Regions from separate parts of the Homo sapiens genome. Here region 2 is linked to region 1. Evidence: fine-mapped expression QTL. A gene starts in region 1. The other region holds a variant in brackets. All regions are shown on one strand. Distances are between the middles of the regions.

The links.
Region 2: its variant is fine-mapped to the expression of GRIK5 in skeletal muscle (GTEx, PIP above 0.99). The same link has a PIP of 0.9 or more in left ventricle.

What each region holds. Positions count from the first base shown.
Region 1 is chr19:42,065,959-42,075,858 of GRCh38, forward strand. It overlaps GRIK5 (glutamate ionotropic receptor kainate type subunit 5), which reads right to left and starts at 4,248. Exons shown (of 20, transcript NM_002088.5): 1 at 3,283-4,248. It also overlaps a transcript of ZNF574 not described here. RefSeq lists enhancers at 9,368-9,437, 9,518-9,567, 9,788-9,900.
Region 2 is chr19:42,034,385-42,042,384 of GRCh38, forward strand. The region is part of intron 12 of GRIK5 (glutamate ionotropic receptor kainate type subunit 5); the gene reads right to left. Among named protein-coding and RNA genes, the nearest start is that of GRIK5, 32 kb to the right of the region's middle. RefSeq lists enhancers at 373-667, 413-707, 638-687, 905-1,404. The variant C/T (reference allele first, on the strand shown) is at 4,463.

The DNA of each region.
Region 1 (9,900 bases):
CTGTTTAGAAGCTGGCAATACTGAGGGCATTGCAAGAAGGGAAGCTCAGCTCAGAGGGGCACTACCAGGGTGGAGGTCACAGTGCTCAGGCGCTGAGTAGGACAGGCTGCAAGAGAGAGGATGGGCACAGCTACCAAAACAGGAGGGAGGCGTGCGAGGTTCTCAGGTAGGAGTGAATTCCTGGGACCAGCCCCACCCAAATAGGAAACCAGGAAGTGCCACCCCCCACCCAGTCCCGCCCCTGTCTCTGGGCAGGCAGCCGTTACTAGGCAACAGAAACCGGCTGGAGAGGATGCGGTGGTTGCTAGGCAACCCCATCCCAGGCCTCACTTGCCACTTTCCTAACATCCCCAGTTCCCACAATCCCATGGGGAGAGAGGCCTGGACATCCGAGGTCTGGAGGAGAGAGTATCTGGGAGTTAGGAAACTTCGGGAGAGATGGAGAGATGGAGAAAAAGAGAGAGAGGCACACACAGAACCCCATAGATGAATGGACCCAGAGCAGTAAAAGGGGGAAAAAAAAAAAAAGCAAAGAGAGAGAAGGGAGGAAACAGAGAAAGTGAAAGAGAGGCTTAGAGAAGGGAAAGACAGAGAGACTCAGAAAGAGAGAAAGGTCAAAATAGATAGAAATACAAGGGAAGAGAAAGACAAGACAATAGGAAAATGGGGGTAGAAATGGAGAGAAAAGAGGAGAGTTACAGGGAGGCAGGGAGAGGACTAGGAGGGAGAAAGAGGGAAGAGACAGGAGGATGAGGAGGCAAGATAAAGAAAGGACAGAGCAGGGAGCGGAGGAAAGAGGGGCAGGCTGGAGGTGGGGAAACCAAGGCACAGGCGAGACACAGGAAGAGGGAGACAGAGGATGGAGAAAAGATAGGAACCGACTCGGATACAAGCAGGAAGAGCTGGAAGGGAGGAGTGAGTAAGGCAGGGAGTGGAGCTGCCTGCCAGAAGTGGGTGCCATACCACTGCCCCCCACCCTACTGGGGAGAAGAAGTAAAGGGGGAGATGGTGCATCTTTGCTCTTCACAACTCTCCACCCCTAAGGAGTCAGGGATTCCTCTAGGCACCCCAGCTTTCTGCAGGGCAACCACTGGGCAAGGAGTTTGGCCAGATGCACAGCTCCACTTCCCCTGGCTGAGGGCTGTGCCCCACGGGAAGGGATGCTTGGGTTTCCATGGAGTAGGGTTACTGTGGGGGGCACAGAATGCTGTGAAGTGGGCCTGGACACCGGACCCCACTCAGTCCCCATGGAAGGACAGCTTGAGCTGGTGAAACTGTGGAATGAGAACTTCGAGGGAAGGATAGAGGCACAAGTCCTTCTCACCATCTCAAGTGGCCTGCAAAACCTAGGCTGGGGATCAGTCCCAGCTCTGCCCCTGACTCACTGCGTGATCTTGAGCAAGTCACTGCCTTCTAGGCCTCTGAGAAGAAGAGAGTGCTAGGTGGGAGGGTATGCTGGACAGGCTGGGGACTGCAAACTATAATGTGGATTAAGGTGAAGGCTTGTCAAGGATGGAGGCACAAGGGATGCTGGGAGACCCGGAGGAGCGCTCAGAGTGGGAGGAGTGTGAAGGGCGGAGCTAGGAGAGAGGCAGGAGTGGAGTGGGTCATCCTGAGACACCAGGGACTCCTGGGGCAAATCAGGGAGCAGAGGACAAAGGACAGAAAGACCGAGGGAGAGATGGGACAGAAGGACAGGGACCCACAGGTGGCAGCCAAAGGTGGGAGCAGACAGAGAAAGACAGGGTTGAGGGGCAGCAGGTGGACACAGAGATACACACAGAAAGACAGCCCAAGACGTAGGAACTGAGGCTAAGTGAGAGAGCAAGAGACAGACACAGCCTAGAAGTGAGACAGCAAAGGAGACAGAGACAGGGCAGGTAGGGTGTCAGGCAGGTCCAGGACTCAGCCCCAGAGACTGGGCAAAGCCAGATAAAAGTCAAAACCCAGCAGAGAGCTGAGCAACAGTGGGCATAGGAGAGACATCAGCAAAGGTGAGAGGCAAGGAGGGCCAGCGAAGGCACACAGGGTGAGGGAGAAGGCAAAGGGAGATAAAGAAACAGCAGCAGGTACAAGACTTGGGAGAAGGAAAGAAATGGCCAAACTCTACAAAGAGAGAGGGCCAGTCGGAAAGAGAGACAGTATGTCGGAGCTGCACGACAGGCCCATAGAAGAGGAAGGGGCAAGGGGGAAAAGCACCTGGGAGAGAGAAAGGGGGAGTCAGGGAGGGAAACTGAGGTGGGGAGATGGAGTGAGTGCACTAGAGGGGCACAGGCAGGGACAGGGCAAGCACCTGCAGGAGAGGCCAGACCCACACAGAGGCATAGCCACCCCAAGACACTCAGGAATGCCGTGTGGGGGAGCAGGAGATCCTGGGGCCTGAAAGCCCCCAGACATGGAGAGGAATGGGAGCAGAAAGGCCACGCGAGGTAACACAGAAGTCGGGAGAGAGAATGGGAGTGGAAAGAGCCAGACCAGCCAGGAAAAGTCAGCATGGACCACGGAGAGGTGGGGCAGCAGCTGAGGAGGGAGGGACTGAGGAGCCGGGCACCCAGAGTGGATCTGGGGGAAAGAGGTGGAAAAGTGACAGAGGGAAGACAGCCTCCAAGCTCAGAGGCAGAGAGAGGGAGGAGGACAGGTGAGCGGAGGCACAGAATAGAAAGAGAAATGGAAAGAGACCTGCCGAGGGAGACTTGGAAAGAGGGAAGCCAGGGTGGAGGAGTTCTGACAGAGAGAGGGATCTAAACAGAGACATGCCGAGAGCAACCTGGGCTAACAGCAAAGAGAGAAGTTGGGCAGAGTCAGAGAGGGGCCCAAGAGACACAGGAAATGGGGGCTCAAAAGCGGAAAGACATATCCAGGAGATAGAGACTGGACGGGGTGGGGACAGGGCCAAGGCCCACCGCAGGCAGAGGATGAGGCTCAGAGGAACAGAAAGAGCCAGTCTGGGACCAGGACGGAGGCTTGGAGACAGCAGGGGCACGGACATGCCAGGGGCCCGGGGTAAGTGAGAGCCCAAGTAAGAGCAATCAGCCCCGTAGGACCCCAGAAAGCTAGAGGGCCAGGGGCGGCAGTGAGCTATGTACCCAGAAGAAGAGGTGAGAAGAGGTCGAGGTGAATGGACGCTGAGGAGATGGAGGGCGCAGAGCAGGCCCCTAGTGGGGGAGGGTACTTGCCAGTCCGGAGAACGGGGAGAATGTGGTGCCCCCCTGCCAGGCGGCACCAGAGCCCAGCCTTCCAGGACCCAGAACCCAGCCCAATCCCTGCCCTGCAGACACTCACGGATCCTGGTGGGACGGAGGGCTGGGCTCCCTCGAGGCCCGAAGACCGACAGCGGGAGGTGCTCTGGCGCTGGGTGGTGGTGGGGCTGGGCGGGGGGAGAGGGCAGTCCACAGGGCCCCCTCCCCCGCCGCCGGTGGTGGCTCCCAACTAATCCAAAACGGTGGCTCCACAGGAGCAGGGAGGAAGGACAGGTGGAAGAGGAGAGGGCGGGCCGGGGAGGGGAGGAAGGGGAAAGGAGAAAATGGAGGAGAGAAGGGGAGAGAGGAGAGGGGGAAGGAGCAAATGGAGGGGAAGGAGGGAGGAAAGGAGGAGAGGAAGGTGAAAACGGAAGGGGGGGGCACAGGCAAAGCCGGGGGAGGGGGAAGCTGGCCCAGGAAAGGGCCCCCGCCCCCTCCCCTAGCCGGGCCGGCCTGGGGGGGCCACAGGGGGCGAGGACTGGGTGGAGAAAAGGAAGCCGGCCATCAGGAGAAGTGGGGGAGGGGAGGGCCTGCTGGGGGAGGGGGCCGCCCCCTTTCCCCCTCCCCCCTGGAGCCTGGGCCCTGCCCTGGTTGAGGCAAGGGCCCGGAGTCCTCAAGCCCTCAGCCCCCACGGGAAAAGCATGCTGGGGGCGGGGAGAGCCCGGGAGTGGAGAGCTGGGGAGGATGGAGAGCTGGGAGACCCGGAGAGGCCAAGAAGGGGGCAAATGAGGTGGAGAGATAGGGAGGAGGGAGAGGAGGATGGAGAGGAGCAGGTGGAAGAGAAAGGCGGAGGAGGGTGGGGTGTCCCAGGGGCTCCCGGTGCTGGGCCTCAGTGGGAGGGCCTGGCGACACACTCCTGGTCCCCTGTGAGGAGCCGGCTCCAGTCCCCGGCTCCAGTCCCCGGCTGGGCCTGCCTCCCTGCCGCTGGCTGCCGCCACCGCTCAGTCTCCCCTCCGAGGCCGCCGCCTGCCTGCCCGCCTGCCGCCTGCGCTGGGTCCTGGAGCGCAGTGGGGTGGTTCAGGAGAGAGAGAAGAGGGAGGGAGGGAGGCAGGGAGGAGGGCGGGCAGGAGGAAGGGAGGGAGGCAGGCAAAGAGAGAGTAGGGAGGTGAGTCGGGGGAGGGGGAGCCTGTATTGGTTGGGGCTGGGGGCCCCCCGCGAGGAGAATGCTGATGAGAAGAAGGAGCTGCATTGGATGGAAGGCCCACCCCCGAGCCACCCCCTCTACCACACCATGCCACCGCCCTGCCCAGGCAGCCCTGGGCACAGGAGCCCACAGAGATGAGAGGCAAGAAGACCCAGGGAGAAGGCCACTGAGATGAGGGGAGAGGGCTACAGAGATGAAGAGAAATGAAGAGAAGAGAGACAGCCGTCAAGACTGTCCAGAGAAGTGGGCTGAGGCCCACAAACCCCACAAGGACAAGGACAGGAAAAGCCCAGGGATAAGAAAGAAAGGCCCATGGAGACAAGGGAGCAGCCTACAGAGACAAGCAAAAGGACCTCGGAGACAAGGGGCAGTAATGTGGACATAGAGACCTCCCGCGAAGGAAAACGGGAGAAGCCAGAGACACAAGAGAGAGGCCCCTGGAAACAGAAAGCACTCCTCAGATATGGGGAGCGGTCCACAGGGCAGGGAGAGAGCCAAGGAGAGCCGAAGAAGGTCACAGAAACAAGGGAGGCCTACAGACACCAGGGTACCAAAAAGACAAGGATGTGGCTCATAGACACAAGAGAGCCACTGAGGCAGGAGCTGCCAGCCTGGAGATGCGGGGCAAGCCTCCCCCAATATAAATAGCTCCTATAGAGGTGAGGGGATGGGTGGTGAGTATGAGAATTCCCTATAGTGCACAGAGAAATCCTTGGGACCCACAGAGATGAGTGGGTGGAGAGAAGGGGCCCTCATTCTCTAGTCACAGGAGCAGAGAGGCAGTGGGAAAGGTGGATGGGACAAGGAGAGGAAGCTGGAGGGCAGAGCCAGAAGTGGGAGACTCCTTCCCAGGGAACACCCTGCAGCCTCTCAGAAGGAGCTGAGCAGGACAGGGGGATGGAAGAGAGAAGCGACACAGATCTTGGAGTGGGGGTGGGTGGTGCATGGCTGGGTGGGGGGTGAAATTTGGGGGGAAGAAACATGACAGTTGGCGCCGAAGGCTGAGCCCGTGACTCACCACCACCCCCGATGCTCGTGATGGGGAGGAGACACTGACACACTCACGTGCGGCCCACAGCATATGTGACCGCATGCCTCGAACACACAGCTGGCACATGGCAACTCCTGGACCACATGCCAGCCCAGCACAGGAAGCCCTCTGCAAGCTGGCATGTGGGGCATCCTGGACACACATCTGACACATATATCTGACGCTGAAGGACCACCAACTTTGCACACACCTCCTTACCCCACTTGGTCAACATCTACACCGCCCCCTCAAACATCCACACTTAACTCCAGTCAGGCCTAAAAGCCCAGATTCACACCTGCCTCTGGGACTTTGCTTATGAAGGACCTCAACACAGAACACCATCCTTTCGACCAGGGCGGTGGCTCATTCCTGTAACCCCAGCACTTTGGAAGGCCGGGGCAGGTGGACCACCTGAGGTTGGGAGTTCAAGACCAGCCTGGCCAACATGGCAAAACCCCGTCACTACTAAAAATACAAAAATTAGCCAGGCCCGGTGGCACACTCCTTTAGTCCCAGCTACTTGGGAGGCTGAGGCACAAGAATTGCTTGAACCTAGGAGGCAGAGGTTGCTGTGAGCCATGATCATGCCACTGCACTCCAGCATGGGAGACAAAGCGAGACTCCATCTCCAAAAAAAAAACAAAAAACAAAAACCAACCACCATCCCCTCTAAATTCAACCTGTCCCGGAAATCCCAGCCAGTCCTGCACTACCACCTCCAGAAAGACCTCAGCTTATCCTCAGCTTATTCCTATATGATCTGGAGAAAAGAGACCTGCACCACCCAAATCAAGTTGAGAAGTCCAAGCAAAAGGCCTGAGAAGTTACCTGGATCCTCAAATTTTCTTTTTTTTTCCTTTTCTTTTTTTTTTTTTTTTGAGATGGAGTCTCGCTCTGTTGTCCAGACTGGAGTGCAGTGGCATGATCTCGGCTCACTGCAAGCTCTGCCTCCTGGGTTCACACCATTCTCCTGCCTCAGCCTCCTGAGTAGCTGGTACTACAGGCGCCCACCACCACACCCGGCTAACTTTTTTTGTATTTTTAGTAGAGACGGGGTTTCACCATGTTAGCCAGGATGGTCTCGATCTCCTGACTTCGTGATCTGCCTGCCTCGGCCTCCCAAAGTGCTGGGATTACAGGCGCAAGCCACTGCACCCGGCCAGGTTTTCTTTTCTTTTATTTTTTCTTTCTTTCTTTTTTTTTTTTCTTTAGATGGAGTTTCGCTCTTGTTGCCTAGGTTGGAGTGCAATGGCGCCATCTTGGCTCACTGCAACCTCCGCCTCCGGGGTTCAAGTGATTCTCCTGCCTCAGCCTCCCGCGTAGCTGGGATTACAGGCATGCACCACCATGCCTGACTAATTTTGTATTTTTAGTAGAGACGGAGTTTCTCCATGTTGGTCAGGCTGGTCTTGAACTCCTGACATCGGGTGATCGGCCTGTCTCGGTCTCCCAAAGTGTTGTGATTACAGGTGTGACCCACCGCACCCAGCCTGATCCTCAGATTTTCAAGTGGGGAAAAGGAGGTTTCAGCAGAAGCAAGAATCTGCCCAAGGTCACACAGCCTGTCAAAAACTGAGCATGGCTTCCACTTCTCTGTCACCTACCCCAGGTGATTTTGCCCTAAGGGCAAACCCAGACTGCTTCAGAGCAGGCCGAGCCTAGCTTTAGCTCACTAATTTCCACCAACTCTTTCCTCCACTTCTTGCATTCAACCCTTCAACATGCAACCACTTGAACTTCCTGCCTGGCAGGCAGGTGAGCCTGGGGGCCAAGAATGTAGACTGTAAGGTCAACTCCTGGGTTGGAATCCTGACTCTTCCTAACTATGGGAACTACGACTAGTTACTTCTCTGGGGCCTCGATGTTTTGTAGAGTCAGCATGACAGTTTCTCTCTCATAGGGTTGTTGAGAGGATTAAACTGAGTAATGCATGTAAGCATTGAGCATAATACCTAGCACGTCATAATACACTCAAGAGATGTTAGTTATTATTATTAGGCTCCCGGAGATACTAATAAAAATAACAACTGGCCAGACACAGTGGCTCACACATGTAATCCCACCATTTTGGGAGGCCAAGACAGGAGGATAGCTTGAGCCCAGGAGTTCTGAGACCAGCCTGGGCAACATAGTGAGACCCTATCTCTATAAAAAAAAAAAAAAAACCCGGGCATGGTGGCTCATGCCTGTAATCCCAGCACTTTGGGAGGTCAAGGTAGATGGATCAACTTGAGGCCAGGAGTTCGAGACCAGCCCAGCCAATGTGGCAAAAACCCATCTCTACCAAAAACTAGGAAAAATTAGCAGGGCATGGCGGTGTATGCCTGTAATCCCAGCTACTCAGGAGGCTGAAAATTGCTTGAGCCTGGGAGGCAGAGGTTGCAGTTAGCTGAGATCACACCACTGCACTCCAGCCTGGGTGACAGAGCTAGACTGTCTCAAAAAAAAAAAAAAAAAAAAAAAAAAAATTAGGGACTGGGCGCAGTGGCTCACGCCTGTAATCCCAACACTTTGAGAGGCTGGGTGGGGGGGTGGATCACCTGAGGTCAAGAGTTCGAGACCAGCCTGGCCAACATTGCAAAAACCTGTCTCTACTAAAAATACAAAAATTAGCCGAGAGTGGTGGTGTCTGCCTGTAGTCCCAGCTACTCAGGAGGCTTAGGCAGGAGAATCACTTGAACCCAGGAGGCGGAGGTTGCAGTGAGCTGAGATCGTGCCACTGTACTCCAGCCTGGGCGGTGGGCGACAGAGTGAGACTCCATCTCAAAAAAAAAAAAAATTAAATTAAATTTTAAAAATAGGCCAGGTGCAGTGGCTCACGCCTGTAATCCCAGCACTTTGGGAAGCCAAGGCAGGTGGATCACGAGGTCAGGAGATTGAGACCATCCTGGCCAACACGGTGAAACCCCGTCTCTACTAAATATACAAAAATTAGCCAGGCGTGGTGGCGAGCGCCTGTAGTCACAGGTACTCAGGAGGCTGAGGCAGGAGAATCGCTTGAACCTGGGAGGCGGAGGTTGCAGTGAGCCGAGATCGCGCCACTGCACTCCAGCCTGGGCGGCAGAGAAAGACTCTGTCTCATAAATAAAATAAAATAAAATAAAATAAAATAAAATAAAATAAAATAAAAATAAAATGAGTAACTCCTAGATGTCTTTTACTCTCTGCCTCACATGAGATGAAATGGGGCTCACATGAAATGGGGCTGTTATTAGCCCCATTTCACAGATTAGAAACTTAGGCTCAGGACAGTTGACTTGCCCTAGAACCAGGATTCCAATCCGGGAATCTGTTTTAACTATACATGCCTGGTGTTAGGGAATTTAATCCATGAGAAGGTTAGGACATCTAGTGACCAAATGGCCATAGAATTGGCCCCGGGTCTCACTGTGAGACGCATCCCATAGTGGCTTCAGGTAAGTAAATAAATAACACAATTCTGAGAGTCAGTTTCCTCATCCGATAAGTTGAAATTCCTCTGTGTTTGGGTTCAAGGAGTAGGTCTGGAAATGTTTCTTTTCTTCTTTCAGATGGAGTCTCGCTCTGTCGCCCAGGCGGGAGTGCAGTGGCGTGATCTCGGCTCACTGCAACCTCGGCCTCCTGGGTGCAATCAAATCTCGAGCCTCAGCCTCCCGAGTTGCTGGGGTTACAGGCACGAGCCACCACGCCCAGCTAATGTTTTGTATTTTTAGTAAAGATGGTAGTTTCACCAGGTTGGCCAGGTGGGTCTCGAATGCCTGACTTCAAGTGAACCCGCCTCAGCGTCCCAAAATGTTGGGATTGCAGGCGTGAGCCACCACGCCCAGCCTGGAAACGTTTCTAACAGTACTGGGGCAACTCCCTCCCAAGGCCCTGAGGGGCGCAGGAACGAGGTGAGTAGGAATGGCCAGAGCCCCTTGGACACATGGGGCCCCAATCTCGAGGTGTAAGGGTCAGAGTCACCCCGGAAGGAGGTGGAGTGGAGTCCGCCCGTTACCGGCTCACTTCCTTCAGGCTCTCACCCCGATTGTCCTTCAGGTCCTCTACCCACCACACTCCCTATTTCTTCCAATGAAATTGTCCCTGCTTCTTTTTCTCCATATCCTCGCTCTCCTTGCTTCCCCTATGACATTTCTCCTCTCTCCACCTCCCAAAAGTCCCCTCGGTCTTTTCTCTGTTTCTTCCTGTTGCCTTCATTCCCCTCCTTTTAATAAAGTGAGTCTGGAACCTTGGTTTCCCTTTTCTCTCTCCATGTGACTGGTGCTGCATGCAGTTTGCCCTCTCCCCATCGCGCTAAGTGGTTTCACTTTCTCCCTCTGACCCTCGGGGAAACCACAAAGGTTCCCGTGCCTCCATTCCCCCGCTCCAGCCCTCAAGGTGCCGCGTGCCTCAATTTCCCAGGCTCTTTTCCTCCCTCTCCCTGTCCCCAACGCTGACTCCCTCACGGCGTCCCCAAAATGGCGCCCGCGGCCGCGCTCCGCCGCCTAACGTCATCGCGCCGCCCT
Region 2 (8,000 bases), 33 kb before region 1:
AATAATAATAAAAAATAACAGCCACACTCCTTAGCAGTGACTGTGAGGCCCTGGGATGTGGGCCCTGCTCTCGGATCTCTCTGCCCCTCACTTTTTCCCCTCAACCACACTTTTCCCCTCAAGTCTTTATACATATGGGCTCTCTACTTGGAAAACACTCTTCCCCAGATCCATCCTTTCACTTGGCAATTATTTGCTGCGCACCAGCTGGGTGTCAGATGGTTCTAGGCGCTGGGGATGCAGAAGTAAGGAAAATAGTCAAACTTCTGCCCTCATAAAACCCTCCCTGGTGGCTCTTCTCAGGACTGTATTCCCCACCCCTTTTAGGTCTCTTCTCAAACGTTATCCAACCACCTTGTCTAAAACAGCATCCACGCACCAGACACTTTTATCTCCTTACCTTGCTTCACCTAACACGATATTAATATATCATACGCTGTCAGTTTCCCCCACTAGAACATCAGCAGTTGGGGCGGGGGGCGGGAAGGAGGGGACAAGGAGCACCTCTGCTCATTACATTGCTGCCCCCTAGTGGCCAGGATGCAGTGGGTGCAGAATAGTTGCTCAGTAGTTATTCAGTAAGTGAATGACTAAATGTAGCTGGTTTGTTTTTGTTTTCGTTTCGCTCTTGTTGCCCAGGCTGGAGTGCAATGGCACCATCTCGGCTCACCACAACCTCTGCCTCCCAGGTTCAAGCAATTCTCCTGCCTCAGCCCCCTGAGTAGCTGGGATTACAGGCATGCGCCACCACATCCAGCTAATTTTTTTGTATTTTCAGTAGAGATGGGGTTTCTCCATGTTGGTCAGGCTGGTCTCGAATTCCCAACCTCAGGTGATCCGCCCACCTCGGCCTCCCAAAGTGCTGGGATTATAGGCGTGAGTCACTGCGCCTGGCCTAAACGTAGCTGTTTTTAAAGATGAGGCAGATCTATGTGTACTAACGTGGGAAGATGGCCAAGTTACAAGTAAAAAAAGCAAACTACACAGCAGTAAGTATAGTAAGATATCATTTTTGCAAAAATAAAAATTTAAGAAATTTAGGCTGGGCATGGTGGCTTACGCCTTTAATCCCAGCACCTTGGGAGGCCGAGGTGAGCAGATCACCTGAGGTCAGGAGTCGAGACCAGCCTGGCCTACATGGTGAAATCCCCATCTCTACTAAACAATACAAAAAAATTAGCCTGGCATGGTGGTGGGCGCCTGTAATCCCAGCTACTTGGGAGGCTGAGGCAGAAGAATTGCTTGAACCTGGGAGGTGGAGGTTGCAGTGAGCCAAGATCGTGCCACTGCACGCCAGCCTGGGGAACAGAGCCAGACTCTGTCTCAAAAAAATTAAGAAATTTAAAGATGTACCTGTATTAATGAATTTGTAGAAAATGAGTTGGAGGAATATGGTCTCTGAGGTGTAAGAACATCATGTATATCCAGTGTTTCTGCTATTTGTACCATTTGGTATTTTATCATTTAGTATTACATATATAAACAGAAAATAAAGGAGTTCCTTCTCAAATAATTGCTTATGAAAATTTCTGATGGTATGCAAAAATGCTTTTTAATGCATATATACTTGCTATTGTTGTGCAAAATAGGATTATACTTAATACAAATATGTTTTATAACCGGAAACACAGTATAATGTAAAATTTTTTAATGAAATGGACTTTATTTATTTATTTATTTATTTTTATTTTTGAGACAGAGTCTCACTCTTGTCGCCCAGGCTGGAATGCAGTGGCGCAATCTCGGCTCACTGTAACCTTCGCCTCCCAGGTTCAAGCGATTCTCCTGCCTCAGCCTCCTGAGTAGCTGGGATTACAGGTGCACACCACTACGCCTGGCTAATTTTTTTGTACTTTTAGTAGAGATGGGGTTTCACCATGTTGGCGGGGCTGGTCTCGAACTCCTGACCTCAGGTGATCTGCTCGCCTTGGCCTCCCAAAGTGCTGGGATTACAGATGTGAGCCACTGTGCCCAGCCTATTTTTTTAAAACAGGGTCTCACTCTGTCGCCCAGGCTGGAGTGCAGTGGTGCAATCATGGCTCACTGCAGCCTCAACCTCCCAGACTCAGGTGATCCTCCCACCTCCCAGCCTCCTGAGTGGCTGGGACTACAGGCACATGCCACCACACTTGGCTAAATTTTTTCAATTTTTGTAGAGATAGGGTTTCACCATGTTGCCAAGGTTGGTCTTGAACTCCTGGGCTCAAGTGATCCTCCCACTTCGGCCTCCCAAAGTACTGGGATTACAGGCGTAAGCCACCATGCCTGGCGTGTGTGTGCGTCTTCTATCAGATGAAGAGAACTGGGGACAACATTTCTAAAGACTCCTTGATAGAATCAGTCAATTGCCCATTCAACACTAATTTACTAGAAACCTGCCATGTGTCAGGCCCTGAGCTGGGGACATAGCTAAGTAGACAAGGCTCCCATCCCCAGGGTGTGGAGGCCACAGGTGAGGTGGGTGGGTATTGTCTTGGTCATGCCAGCATCTATGACCTGTGCTGATCTCATCTGTCCCCTGTGATACCCCTCCAAGTTAGGGGGTCACCACTCCCCATTTGAGGAGACACTAAGGCTCAGAGGGGGCAGCCACCTGCCTGCAGGTCACAAAGCCAGTAAGGAGTAAGTCCAGATTTGAACCCAGGGTTAGCCGACTCCAAAACCCATTCTTCTAACTACACTCACATACAGACCGCCTCAAGAAAGGTATCTAGCAGTAGTGACCACATGTGAGCCAGGCATGTGCCAGGCTCTGTGCAAATGCGCTCTCATTTAATTGCCTTAAAACTCACTGGCTGGGTGCAGTGGCTCATGCCTGTAATCCTAGCACTTTGGGAGGCCAAGGCGGACAGCTCACTTGAGGTCAGGAGTTCGAGACCAGCCTGGCCAACATGGCGAAACCCCGTCTCCACTAAAAATACAAAAATAGCCGGGCATTGTGGTGCATTCCTATAATCCCAGCTACTTAGGAGGCTGAGGCAGGAAAATCGCTTGAACCCTGGAGGCAGAGGTTGCAGTGAGCCGAGATCACGCCACTGCACTCCAGCCTGGGCGACAGAGTGAGACTCTGCCTCAAAAAGAAAAACAAAAACAAACAAACAAAAAAACCCTCTGTGAGGGAGGTAACATTAGCCCCTTTTCAAGAGGAGTGACTGACCTTCAGAGATAAGTGGCTTTGCAGGGATCATGTGGGAGCACTGGGGACCTGAAGCTGGCTCCTTCTGGCTCCTAACCAGTGCACTGCTATAGTGGACTCCATGGTGGCTACCCAGACTCTGTTTCAGGAGTGGGGCACTCATTGCCTCAGCTGCCCAGGGTGTAGGTGGCTGATGGCTCTCAGCTCTGTCAGTAGAAGAGCGTCCCCTCACCCAAAGTCCTGACTCTCCCCAAGAGCAGCCCACGTCCAGTGACATATCAGTGGGTGCTTAAAGGCCTGGCACCCTTACCACAGGGGGAGGTCCTTGACGGCCAGCTCAGCTCCAGAGCTGCCTGTGGGACAGCTAAGGCCCAGTTGTGACTGCAGCGCAGCTCAACTCCTCTGCCCAAGCCTGCTTCCTTCCCTCCTGCACAGGGCAGGTTTCCAGGGGCACGCCATCACACCTCCTGCCTCTACATCTCCATCTCAGAGTCAGCTTCCTGGGACCCTGACCTAAGATCTTCTTTGCCCTTGAAGGCTAAGCTTTATCCTGAGGGCCTCAGGGGCTTCAGTTAAAGCATACAAGTGACAGATCAGACTCACACTGTAGAAAGGTTCTATTGGAGGACAAGCTGGGGAGTGGAGAGACTAGAAGCCAGGAGGCCAGTAAGGAGGCTGATGAGAGGGGTGGGACCTGAATTCACACCATGGCAGTGATGGCAGGGAGAAGGCCAATGTCAGCCATGGCCACTGGGTGGAAAAAATGGGTCATAATTCAAGACAGGCCAAGGAGACCTGTGCCTGGCCCAGGGGTGACTGGCAGGATGGTGGTGCCCCAGGCTGTCTTCCATCTGGAAGTCACTCACCAGCTCTGGGCCACCCTGATGGGGTGCCCACCTTGGCTCTCCTGGTCACTAGCCATGGGCCTGGACATGAAACCTTGATGCCTCACTGTACATTTGAGAAAACGGGGCTAATACCAGTCCCTCTCTCACTGGGTGGCCATGAGGAGTCAAGGATGGAGACAAGTCAGAAAGCTCAGACAAGGGCCTGGCACAGCGTGCCACTCCATCAGTGTACTCCGAGCTTCCCAAGTTCCCAGCTGGAGGGCTGGAAAGGGCACGGGCCTTAAGTCAGACACACCTGGCTGCAGCCCTGTGCACTGGGGACTCCAGATCTCACACTGGGCAGTGATCCTCAGGCCATGAAGGACTGCTATGAAAATTATGTTAAGTAACACTTGAAAAGTTCCTCGCACATGGTGTGAAATCAACAAATGACAGCTGCTGCTGTTGTGATGACGGTGGTGACTATTCCTGTGCAGCT[C/T]GGCACACTCGGCTATCCCACAGCAGGGCAAGGCCAAACTCCGCCTATCCTTCACGCTCCAGCTCCTCCTCCAGTGTTCTCCCTGTAAATGTCATTGCCATCACCCAGATGCCCAAGCCAGACACAGGAGGAATGCTCTCCCTCCTGTCCTCTCCTGCATCCCCCACCCTAGGCAGTCACCAAGCCCTGGTGCTCTTTAGCCCTTCCCCTAGTCTCTAGCTCTGACGTTCTCCCGCCTGAGGCCCACCAGCTCATTCCTTATCTCCTCACTGGTCTTCCTGTTACCACTGCTTCCCCCAACCCCAGGGCCAATTCACTTGAGCCAGATCAAAACCCTTCAAGGGTGGCCGGGCATGGTGGCTCATGCCTGTAATCCCAGCACTCTGGGAGGCTGAGGCAGGTGGATCACCTGAGTTCAGGAGTTTGAGACCAGCCTGGCCAACATGGCGAAACCCATCTCTACTAAAAATACAAAAATTAGCCAGGTGTGGTGGCATGCGCCTGTAGTCCCAGCTACTCAGGAGGCTGAGGCAGGAGAATCATTTGAACCCACGAGGCAGAGGTTGCAGTGAGCCAAGATCACCCCATGGCACTCCAGCCTGCCTGGGCAGCAGAGCCAGAGTCCGTCTCAAAACAAAAACAAAAACAAAACTCTTCAAGGGCATCCCATGGGCTTTCTGCTGAGGCCCAAACCCTTTAGCCCACTCAGTAAGAGCACATCGGGCTTGTTCACCATGGTATCCCCAGGGTATAGCACAGGGCTTGGTATACAGTAGGCACTCAACAAACATTGGCTGAATGGAAAATGGATGAACACACAAATCTATGTATGTGCTGGCCATGCTGGTATGAATAATAACAATAATAAAAATAGTATAATCCCAGCACTTTGGAAGGCTGAGGTGGGAGGATTGCTTAAGCCCAGGAGTTCAAGACCAGCCTAGGCAACAGGGCCAGACCCCATCTCTACAAAAAACACAAAAATTACCTAGGCATTATGGCATATGCCTATAGTCCCAGCAACTCGGGAGGCTGAGGTGGGAGGATCGCTTGAGCCCAGGAGGTGGAGGCTGCAGTGAGCTGTGATTGCACTACTGCGCTCCAGCCTGGGCAACAGAGAGAGACCCAGTCTCAAAGGAAAAAAAAAAAAGGACACACGCATACAGCACCCACTATGCACCAGGCCCTGTTCTAAGTTCTTCACTGCATGTTGTTCTTCAAAACAACCCTATGTGCTAAAGGGCTGTTATTCCCCAATTTTACAGTTGAACAAACTACAACCTAAAGAAATGTTAAGCACTTGCCCAAAGCCACACAACCAGTGCACAGCAGAGCTAAGCTTTAAACAGCCAACCACAGACACTCTCAGCTGCCACACTTTGCTGGCCCCAGGCCCCAAATCCTCTCACCCTACCCTACTGAGTAGGCCCTGAGACACAAAGGTCAGACAGCTGTAAATAAGAACTGTTCCAGACTTCTCTGTTGGTGAAAAAAGGGCATCCAGTTTAGAGTGACTTCAGGTGCAGGGCTACTCCCTTGGAGCCTGCTTATTTCTGGGATACCAGATGAAAGAATATTTCTGAGCCTACGTGACTAAAGACCAGGCTGTGGAAACAGGTCACGAGGAAGCCTGTGCCCTCAGGTGGGCATAGAGCTGTCAGCTCTGGGGCTTCTCATCTCCTGTCTCACCCGGGGCCTCTTTGGGCTTCAGGCTTTAAAATTCACCCTGGGCTGGGTGTGGTGTCTCATACTTGTAATCCTAGCACTTTGGGAGGTGAGGTGGGCGGATCACTTGAGGCCAGGAGTTCAAGACCAGCCTGGCCAACATGATGAAACCTGTTGCTCCAAAAAATACAAAAATCAGCCAGGCACGGTGGCGCACCTGTAATCCCAGCTACTCGGAAGGCCGAGGCAGGAGAATCGCTTGAACCCGGGAGGTGGAGGTTGCAGGGAGGCAGAGGTTGCTGTGAGCAGAGATCGTGCCATTGCACTCCAGCCTGGGCAACAGAGGAGACTCTGTCTCCAAAATAAATAAATAAATAAATAAAATAATAATAATAATAAAATTCACCCTGACCTTAAAACTCACCCTGGGGCAGAAGTTTTCAAACCAGCTGGCAGCTTTATGGGGCAGCGCCTTGGGACCTGCCTGTGGGGTGGGGTGGGAGGCACCCCCATCTCTGCCTTCACCAGAGCAGCTCTGCTCTTGCCCAGGGTTCTGAGGGAGTTTGCAATTGGAAAAAAAGTTCTGTCAAAATAACTTTTGAAAGTCAGTGCCCTAAGGGATAAACGTCCTTGTCAAGCAAAGTGGCCCTCTCATGTCTTCCCTCGTGATGTTCAGGGGGTTGGATGCTGTAAATTCTGGCATGAGAGAGAGGAGGGTGAGAATCTCTGATGAGCTCTGTCAAGTCTAACGTCAAGGCTGCCCTGGCCATCTCTGGCCACAGCCCCTTGGTCTGCACACCAGCTCTGGGAGTGTCCTAATCAGGGGCCTACTTATCTCCCAGGGCACAGTCCTGCCTCTGGGCAGTTGTGCCCATAGTTTCTCCCACCTGGAATAAAAAGAGGAACTACATTTCAGTCCCCCAGTATCTGCCAAGCGATGTGTGAGGTACTTGTCCCCACGTCCCGTAACCCTCACTATAGACCTGCAAGGTATTATTATCCCCATCTTAGGGAGGGGAAAACTGAGGTTCAGAGGAGAGAAATGACACTTAAGGATTCAAATCTAGGAGTGTCTGACACCCAAAGATCCTTTCCACTGCACCCTTGCCTGCCACCTCCCATGGCCCTGCCTTCCATCCCTCCTCAGCTGCAACCAAATTCTGCCCACGCTCAGGCCCCGCTGGTTCCTCCAGTGCATCCCACTCCCTAGTATCGCCCCATCTTTGTAGATGCTATTTCCCCTGCTCCAAATACACTCCCCTTCTCCCACACCCCCTTCACCTTGCTAACTCCTTCATGACCTTTGGGAATCAGTTTGGGTATCGTCTCTTCTGGGAAGCCCTACTGGGATATCTGACTGGGTCAGGAACCTCCTCTGGGACCGTCCTCTGAGCTCCCCAATCACAGCCCAGACAGCTCTGTGCTGTGGTCATTCACTGTCTTGCGCCCCAAAGAGACTCTAAGCTCTTGGGGGCAGGGTCCAGATCCACTGTGCTCACAGTGGGATCCCATGCCCAGCAAGAGGCAAGGCACATAGTAGGTACTCAATAAACAGCCACTGAATGGGTGAATGTATGAGTTCTACATGCAGCCCTCCAGGTCCATGATGTGCCAGGCCCTCCCTAGCAGGTGCTGGGCATAGCACACAGGTGAGGTGTGCTCCCTGCTCTCAGCCCTGCCTCCTGCAGGAAGCCTTTGACCTCCTCAGACCTTTTCCTGCTCCCCACTCCATGTCTCTTTCATTCACTTAACAAATCTTTGCACACCGACTAATCCAAGGTGGCATGAAAGGGGCATTTGGCAAAGCAGGACACAGGTGGTGATGCATGTACCACCTCTCCTCCTCTGTCCCATCCCACAGCACCCGCCAGGC